Regions from separate parts of the Homo sapiens genome. Here region 1 is linked to region 2. Evidence: fine-mapped expression QTL. A gene starts in region 2. The other region holds a variant in brackets. All regions are shown on one strand. Distances are from middle to middle.

Evidence for each region. PIP is the estimated chance that this variant, and not a neighbour inherited with it, causes the effect.
Region 1: its variant is the best candidate, but not a certain one, in a credible set for the expression of FBXL12 in cerebellum (GTEx, PIP 0.70).

What each region holds. Positions count from the first base shown.
Region 1 is chr19:9,884,029-9,888,413 of GRCh38, reverse strand. All of the region lies in intron 1 of OLFM2 (olfactomedin 2), which reads left to right. Among named protein-coding and RNA genes, the nearest start is that of OLFM2, 50 kb to the left of the region's middle. The variant A/G (reference allele first, on the strand shown) is at 2,403.
Region 2 is chr19:9,817,014-9,821,398 of GRCh38, reverse strand. FBXL12 (F-box and leucine rich repeat protein 12) reads left to right here and starts at 2,320. Exons shown (of 3, transcript NM_017703.3): 1 at 2,320-2,671; 2 at 2,782-2,854. The coding sequence starts at 2,586. It overlaps LOC124900430 (small nucleolar RNA SNORA70), which reads right to left and starts at 1,445; the gene lies at 1,305-1,445. It also overlaps the pseudogene RPL10P15. RefSeq lists silencers at 1,759-1,908, 2,129-2,218, 2,669-2,828.

The sequences.
Region 1 (4,385 bases), 67 kb before region 2:
TAGCTGGGATTACAGGCACGCACCACCACACCCGGCTAATTTTTGTATTTTTAGTAGAGACGGGGGTTTCACCATGTTAGCCAGGCTGGTCTCGAACTCCCGACCTCAAATGATCCACCCACCTCAGCCTCCCAAAGTGCTGGGATTACAGACATGAGCCACTGCGCCAGGCCAGCAGGGAGGGTCTTTTGAGACAATGACATTTCAGTAAGGGTCTGAAGGAGGTGGAAGGACATTTCAGGCAGAGGGGATAGCCAGTGCAAAGAGGTGATATAGAAGAAATATGTTTGGGGTTTTGCAGGAACAGTGTGGCTGGAACAGAGTGAGTGAGAGGGAGAGTGGAAGGAAGTGAGGGCAGGGAGGTGATGGGACAGATTGTGAAGGAGTTACGTGCCTTGGGGAGAACTCTACTTTGAGACAAGGAGAGATCATGGCTCACCACAGCCTCGACCTCCCAGGCTCAAGCGATCCTCCCACTTCAGCCTCCTGTGTAGAAGGGACTACAGACACATGCCACCACTTCCGGCTTATTTTTTAATTTTTTGTAGAGATGGGGTCTCACTATGTTGCCTAGGCTGGTCTCAAACTCCTGGGCTCAAGTGATCCTCTGGCCTCAAAATACTGGGATTACAGGTGTAATCACGCTTGGCTGAGGATTTGGGCTTTTAACTCAGGGGAGATGGGAGCCATGGAGGGTTCTCAGCACGGGAGAGACTCAGTGTGATTCATGTGTTCACAGGTGCTCTCTGGCTGCTGTGGGGGAAGCAGACTGTGGGGGCAAGTAGGGGGAACTGGGAGACCATGGAAGGGATGAACTCTGCTGGTTCAGGTGAGCAATGCCAGGGGCTTGACCATGGAGATGGCCATCAAGAGGGTAGAGCAATGGGTAGATTCTAAAGGTAAGGCTGATGCATTGGTATAAGAGAAAGAGAGGGTGGGCGGTGCGGTGGTTCATGCCTGTAATCCCAACACTTTGGGAGGCCGAGGCAAGTGGATCACTTGAGGTTAGGAGTTTGAGACCAGCCTGGCCAACATGGAGAAACCTCATCTCTACTAAAAATACAAAAATTAGCTGGGGGTGGTGGTGTGTGCCTGTAATCCCAGCTACTCGGGAGGCTGAGGCAGGAGAATCGCTTTAACCCGGGAGGTGGAGGTTGCTGTAAGCCAAGATCACACCACTGCACTCCAGCCTGGGCAACAAGAGCGAGACTCCATCTAAAAAAAAAATGAAAGAAAAAGAAAAATTGGGTGGATTCTGTTTGCAAGTGAATGTACTTAAACGATTTATTCTTGAATGCCAGAGATGTTTATTGAACACCTGCTGCGTGCCAGGCACTGTTCTGTTTTGAGGACACAGCAATGAACAAAGTGATAAAAATTCCTGCCCTTTGGGGAGTGTACATATGAGAGCGACAGACAAGAAATAATATGAGGCCAGGCACGGTGGCTCACACCTGTAATCCCAACACTGGGAGGCCGAGGCAGGCAGATCACCTGAGGTCAGGAGTTTGAGACCAGCCTGGCCAACATGGTGAAACCTTGTCTCCACTAAAAATACAAAATTAGCCAGGCGTGGTGGCACATGCCTGTAATCCCAGCTACTTGGGAGGCTGAGGCAGGAGAGTCGCTTGGACCCAGGAGGCAGAGGTTGCAGTGAGCTGAGATTTAAAAAAAAGAAAGAAAGAAAAAGAAACGAGATGAATGTAAGGTGCGGAAAAATGCATCAGGGATGGTCCTGGAGCATGACAGGGGCTGCACATGTGGACGAGGCAGACTGGGCAGAATCGAGGATGCATTTCGAAGTGAGGGCTGCTTTCGGGGTTGTGCAGGATGGATTGCCTATTTAGGTGGAAATGACAGAACTCGGTGCCAGGGTGTGAATGTGAACCTGAAGGGACACTGACATAAATACCCTCTTAGGGCCCAGTGCGGTAATACCAACATGTTGGGAGGCCAAGGTGGGCAGATCACCTGAGGTCAGGAGTTCGAGACCAGCCTGGCCAACATGGTGAAACCCCATTTCTACTAAAAATACAAAAAATTAGCTGGGCATGGTGGTGTGTGCCTGTAATCCCAGCTACTCGGGAGGATGGGGCAGGAGAATCACTTGAACCTGGAAGGCAGAGGTTGCAGTGAGCCAAGATCACTCCATTGTACTCCAGCCTGGGCAACAAGAGCGAAACTCTGTCTCAAAAAACAAAAACAAAAACAAAAACCCTCTTAGGTTGAATGTTCATCATTTCCCCCATCTTAGGTTGGGTTCCTGAGAAGCAGAACTAGAGACGTAAGTTTCCAGCACTTTTTTTTTTTCTTTTTTGAGACAGGGTCTTGCTCCGTTGCCCAGGCTGGAGTGCAGGGGTGCAATCATGGCTCACTGCAGCCTCAACCTTCTGGGCTCTAGC[A/G]ATCCTCCCACCTCAGCCTCCCATGTAGCTGGGACTACAGGTGTGCGCCACCACACCTGGTTAATTTTTTAATCTTTTGTAGAGACAGGGTCTTGCTGTGTTGCCTAGCCTGGTCTTAAACTCCTGGGCTCAATGATCCTCCTGCCTCGGCCTCCCAAAGTACTGGGATTACAGGCATGAGCCACCGTGCCTGACTGTGGAGCACATAATTGAAAGTCAGGGCAGGGGTGAGGGGAGCAGGACCTGGAAGAGAATAGATTGAGCAAAGATGAGATCCTAGGTAAAGTCCCGGTTTGGCTTGCTCCACAAGGGTGGGGGGACACTGTGGAGTTATCTCACCATGAGAAGAGGAGTGGGCTTTTTACCCCTGCATCAGTCATTAGCTGCCCCTGGGAGTAGGTGACACCTCCCAAGCATCTCCAAGGTGTGGTGGCTCCCAAAAGCCATGGGCAGGTCCAGAGAAGATCACAGCTGCTAGCAATGAGCCGCCGTGCTCAGCAGCTGCAGGGTGGGTACATCTAGGCAGTCAGCAGCTCTGGGCAGAGCCCCAGGAGCATCTCCCACACTCCCCCAGCCCTAACGAGGGGGGTCATAGGAGCACCAGGCATTTGTGCCAATCACAGCGTGGATGTCTGACACCAGACCATGTTCTCAGCTCTCTTGGGATGAAAACCAGGCCAACTTGGCACTGGGGCTCCTCTGACACAGCTGAGATTTTTTCCGGATTCATTAACTGCCGGAGACTCAGCCCTCTGCCTCCCAGTCTGGGAATTGCAGTCTGGGAATGGGTCAGAATCACTCACTCAACAGTAAGGCACTACTATCACTCCCATTTTGCAGGTGGGGAAAGTGAGGCACAGAGAGGTTAAGTCACTTTCCCATGGTCACACAGCTAGAAAGAGAAGCCGGGTTTTGAAGTTCAAGTTGTCGGCCTCCAGGGTCCATGTGCTTCACAGCTACACTCAACTACCTTTGACTCCATGACCGCTTCAAAACCCAGAGCCCCTGTATCCACCCTGTGATGGGAGAGGAAGGAGGAAGAGAGCAGACAGAGGGTGTTGGGGAGTCGGGGAGGAAGGGGTCACATGGAAAACTTGGAGTGTACAGGAAGCATTCATTCATTCATTCATATCTTGATGCCTGTCCATTGTCTCCAGCATCTGCTGGTGTTGGGACCATAGCATGGAAGAAGACAGACTCAGCCCTGCCCTTTTGGAGCTCACATCCTAATGGGGCATGCAGACACCCACCATGCAAGGAAAAGAATAAAATATAAGAACTTTGTGGAGGGAAGGGGCAGGGAGCTGTGGAGATGTGCACAGGAAGGAACACAGACCTATCTTAGATGATGGAGAAGGCTTCCTGGAGGTGGTGGTGTTTGCTGTGAGCTCTGAAGAATGCCTAGAACTGGCGAGTCCTAGCTGTAGAAACACCAGCATCTCTACAGTCCCATAGACCTGGGGCTGGAGTGCACTGGCACAATCTCGGCTCAGTGCAACCTCCACCTCCCAGGTTCAAGCGATTCTCCTGCATCAGCCTCCCGAGTAGCTGGGACTACAGGCACCTGCCACCACACCCGGCTAATTTTATATATTTTTGGTAGAGATGGGATTTCACCATGTTGGCCAGGCTGGTTTCGAACTCCTGACCTTGTGATCCGCCTGCCTCAGCCTCCCAAAGTGCTGGGATTACAGTCCTGAGCCACTGTGCCTGGGCTTTTTTTTTTTTTTTTTTTAATTTTTGAGACAGGGTCTCACTCTGTCACCCAGGCTGGAGTGCAGTGGCATGATCACAGCTCATTGCAGCCTCAACCTCCCTGGGCTCAGGTGATCCTCCTCTTTCAGCCTCCCAAGTAGCTGGGACTACAGGTGCGCACCACCATGCCTGGCTAATCTATGTATTTTTGTTAGAGACGGAGGTCTCACTATGTTACCCAGGCTGGTCTTGAACTCCTGGGCTCAAGCCATCCTTTCACCCCGGCCT
Region 2 (4,385 bases):
AGGCAGGAAGAACTTGAGCCCAGGAGTTCAAGACCAGCCTGAGCAACATGGCAAAACCCCGGCTCTAGAAAAAAATACAAAAATTAGCCGGGCGCAGTGGCTCACACCTGTAATCCCAGCATTCTGGGAAGCTGAGGCAGGTGGATCACCTGAGGTCAGAAGTTTGAGACCAGCCTGGCCAATATAGTGAAACCTGATCTCTACTAAAAACATAAAAATTAGCCGGACATGGTGGCGGGCGCCTGTAGTCCCAGCTACTCGGGAGGCTGAGGCAGGAGAATCACTTGAACCTGGGAGGCGGAGGTTGCAGTGAGCCGAGATTGTGCCACTGCACTCCAGCCTGGGTGATGCAGCAAGACTTCATCTCAAAAAACAAAACAAAAATTAGCCGGGCGTGTTGGCATGTGCCTACAGTCCCAGCTACTCGGGAGACTGAGGTGGAAGGATCGGATCACTTGAGCCCCAGAGGTTAAGGCTGCAGTGAGCTATAATTTCGCCACTGCACTCCAGACTGGGTGACAGAGAGAGACCCTGTCCCAAATTTAAAAAAAAAAAAAGATAATGAAATCATGTCCTTTGCAGTAACATGATTTTTTTTTTTTTTTGAGATGGAGTCTCGCACCCGTCGCACAGGCTGGAGTGCAGTGGCGCGATCTGGGCTCACTGCAACCTCCACAATCTCTTTCATATTCTTTTTTTTTTTTTTTGAGACGGAGTTTCGCTCTGTCACTCAGGCTGGAGTGTGGTGGCGCGATCTCAGGTCACTGCAATCTCCGCCTCCTGGCTTCAGGAGGCGTGCGTGTGTGTGTGTGTGTGTATATATATATATATATATATATACACACACACACACACACACACACACACACATTTTTTTTTTTGGACAGGAAGTAGAATTTATTGGTGAGTATTAATAGGGGGGGCAGCACATTGGAAGCCCTCATGAGTGCAGGGCCAGCCACTTGTCCAGAGGGCCACGATTGGGGATGTACTTGACCCCACAGCCATCTGGGATGAGCCGCTTCTCAGCCACCATGTCTTCAAATTCATCAGCATTGAACTTGGTGAAGCCCCACTTCTTTGAGATGTAGATCTTCTGGCGGCCAGGAAACTTGAACTTGGCCCTGCGCAAGGCCTCAATCGCATGCTCCTTGTTCTGCAGCTTGGTGCGGATGGACATGATAACTTGGCCAATGTCAACCCTGGCCACAGTGCCCTGGGGCTTTCCAAAGGCACCTCACATGCCTGTTTGGAGCCTACATTGTGGTAGTGCAAGGTTAGAAACATGAACATCCATCGGAAAGGCCTGTCTCCAAGGTCCCTTAGAGCAACCCATACAACCAACAGGCTGCGTACACTACCAAGGAAGCTGCTGTGTGCAGCCATTGCACACACACATTTTTATAGTTTCTTGGTGGACTTGCCAATTCAGAAAATATCTGTAGTATCAATGAAAGTGAAAAATTCAACAGGTCCTTTGGCCACGATATTCCAGTAATACAAATTTATCCTTGTGCATAGACATCAAGAAGCATCATTAAGTAAAAAAATAGAGTTCTCTGACTCTCTACCAAGCCATTCGCTCGGGGCCAGACCCACAGGCCTCGCCCCGCCTCAACCACGCCTTCATGGCGTAGTCTTCTCCCTGTCTCCGTCCCCCGCTCCCCACCTTCCGAGCGTCTCCATCGCTCCCCAGCCACGCCCTTGGCGCCTGGTCCTGCTGCAGCCTGGTTTCCGTCCAGACCACGACCTCTCGGCTAGGTCCTCGTCGTCAACCCCGCCCCCAAGGTCTCGCCCCGCCCCAGCCCCGCCTTCCAGCGGTTGTCCGAGCCTCTACCCGCCCTAGCCACGCCTCCAAGGCGTGGTTCTCGTCTGCAGCCCCACCTAGGCCTCGCCCCGCTCCAGCCGCGCCTTCCGGGCTTGATCCTCGCCCCACCCCAGCCACGCCTTCTGGACTTGGTCCTCGTCTCTAGCCCCGCCCCCTAGCCGCGCCCCAGCCCCGCCTTCTGGACTTGGTTCCGTTCTCTGGCTCCGCCCCTGAGCCTCGCCCAACTCCAGCGACGCCTTCCGGGCTTGGGCCTCGCCTCTAGCCCCGTCCCCGGGTCTCGCCCCTCCCCAGCCACGCCTTCCGGACTTGGTCCCCGTCTCTAGCCCCGCCTCCGATCCTCGCCCCACCCCAGCCACGCCTTCCGGACTTGGTCCTGGTCTCTAGCCCCGCCTCCGATCCTCACCCCACCCCGGCCACGCCTTCCGGACTTGGTCCTCGTCTCTAGCCCCGCCTCCGAGCTTCGCCTCACTCCAGCCCCGCCTTCTGGACTTGGTCTTAGTTCCCAGTCGCGGCCAAATCACGCCTCAGCCACCTCCCGCAAGCCTCTCACTGCCTCAGCCACGCTTTCCAGGCTGGTTTCTGGTCCCCATCCGCGGCTGGTCCGGCCCTGGGACCGAATCACTTCCCAGCGAGAGGAAGGTCAAATTTCTCGACCGGCTACGGGAAGGTCGCGGCCGCCGCCCTGTCAGCCGCCTCGGCGCCCCCAGGACCCCTCGGGTCTCTTTAACCGGAAGCGGAAGTGCGTGTCGGCGGGATCATGGCGACTTTGGTCGAACTGCCGGACTCGGTCCTGCTCGAGATCTTCTCTTACCTCCCGGTACGGGACCGGATCCGCATCTCCAGGTGCGGCCCCGCCTCCGGGGGGAAGGGCAGGGCGGAGGGCGCAGCTGGCACCTGGAGATGCGATGTGGCCCGGGGCTGGGGTCGTTCTAACCGCGCGTCCCCTCCCCCAGGGTCTGTCACCGCTGGAAGAGGCTGGTGGACGACCGGTGGCTGTGGCGACATGTCGACCTGACGCTCTACACGGTACGCGCAGCTGGCCGGGCGGGCCTGGGCCGCGGTCGCGGTGCCCGGACCCCGAAGACCACCTCTCCCACCCTGGGACTGTGTGTCGGGGCCCGGGCTGGGGATTTAGAGCCAGGCGATCCGGGGCCTATCTCGGCATCATCGCTTACCAGCTCCTCTTCGACCTCAGGGCCTCAATTTCCTCATCCCTGCAATGGGGATAAAGGACAGTACCTGCCTCACGGGGCTATTATGGGACTTCACTGAGATCACGCAGGGAAAGGGCTTAGAACAGTCTGGCACATATTTATCATTCGATAAATGCTAATTTATGACTATGTTATCAAGTTTTTGTTTTGTTTTTGAGACAGAGTCTCGCTCTGCTGCTCAGGCTGGAGTGCAGTGGTGCGATTGCAGCCTCGACCTCCCAAGCTCAAGCGATCCTCTCGCATCAGCCTCCTGAGTAGCTGGAACCACGGGCGCTCGCCACTACACCTGCTAATTTTTTATTTTTTGTAGAGACGGAGTCTCACTATGCTGCCCAGGCTGGTCTCGAACTCCTGGGCTCAAGTGATTCTCCCGACTTAGCCTCCCAAAGTGTTCAGATTACAGGCATGAGCCACAGCAACTGGCTCAAAACATTTATAGATATATTTGTTGCCCTTTTTGAAACTGTCTTCATAGATAATTGCTATTATAAAGTGAATTTGCACCCTTCCTTTTACGTTACTTCATATGTGTGTGTCCAAAAACAATTATAGTGTTAGTAATGTATTTCTGAACTTCGGGTAATGCTGTTCTACTATTTAGATAGTGTTCTACTTTTAAACAATTTTACTGTATATATCCATCTGTAACTCCCTTTAATACAGTTGCTTTTGAAGTTCTTTTTTTAAGGACAGAGTCTTGCTATGTTGCCCAGGATGGTCTCGAACTCCTGGACTGAAGCTGTCCCCCAACCTCAGTCTCCCAAAGTGCTGGGATTACAGGTGTGAGCCACAGTGTCTGGCCTGATAATATGAAACTTTTTCTCAGTTGTTGAAACTTAGTTGTTGGTTTTGCGAGGAAAAGTTGATTCGTCCATTGGTTTTGTGTGCATTTAAAATTTTACCAACTTTAACTGCTACCCTTGTGAGTTACCATTCGGTGGCCACTATTTCTAGTCAATTTCTGCTGACCCACACGGGTCTAAATTTGGCAAGGAAGATTTGATTCCTCTGTCAAAAGTAGCCCATAACATTTATGCTCTGCAGTTTATCTTTTTCTAATTTATTTTTTTGAGATGGATCTCACTCTGTCACCCAGGCAGTGGCAAAATCATAACATACTGCAACCTCCATCTCCTGGGCTCAAGCCATCTTCCTGCCTCAGCCGCCTGAGAAGATTCATTAAAACATGTTTCTTTCTCTCTTGGTTCATGATATGGTTTGGCTGTGTCCCCACCCAAATCTCAACTTGAATTCTATCTCCCAGAATTCCCACGTGTTGTGGGAGGGACCCGGGGAAAGTAATTGAATCATGGGGCCAGTCTTTCCCATGCTATTCTTGTGAT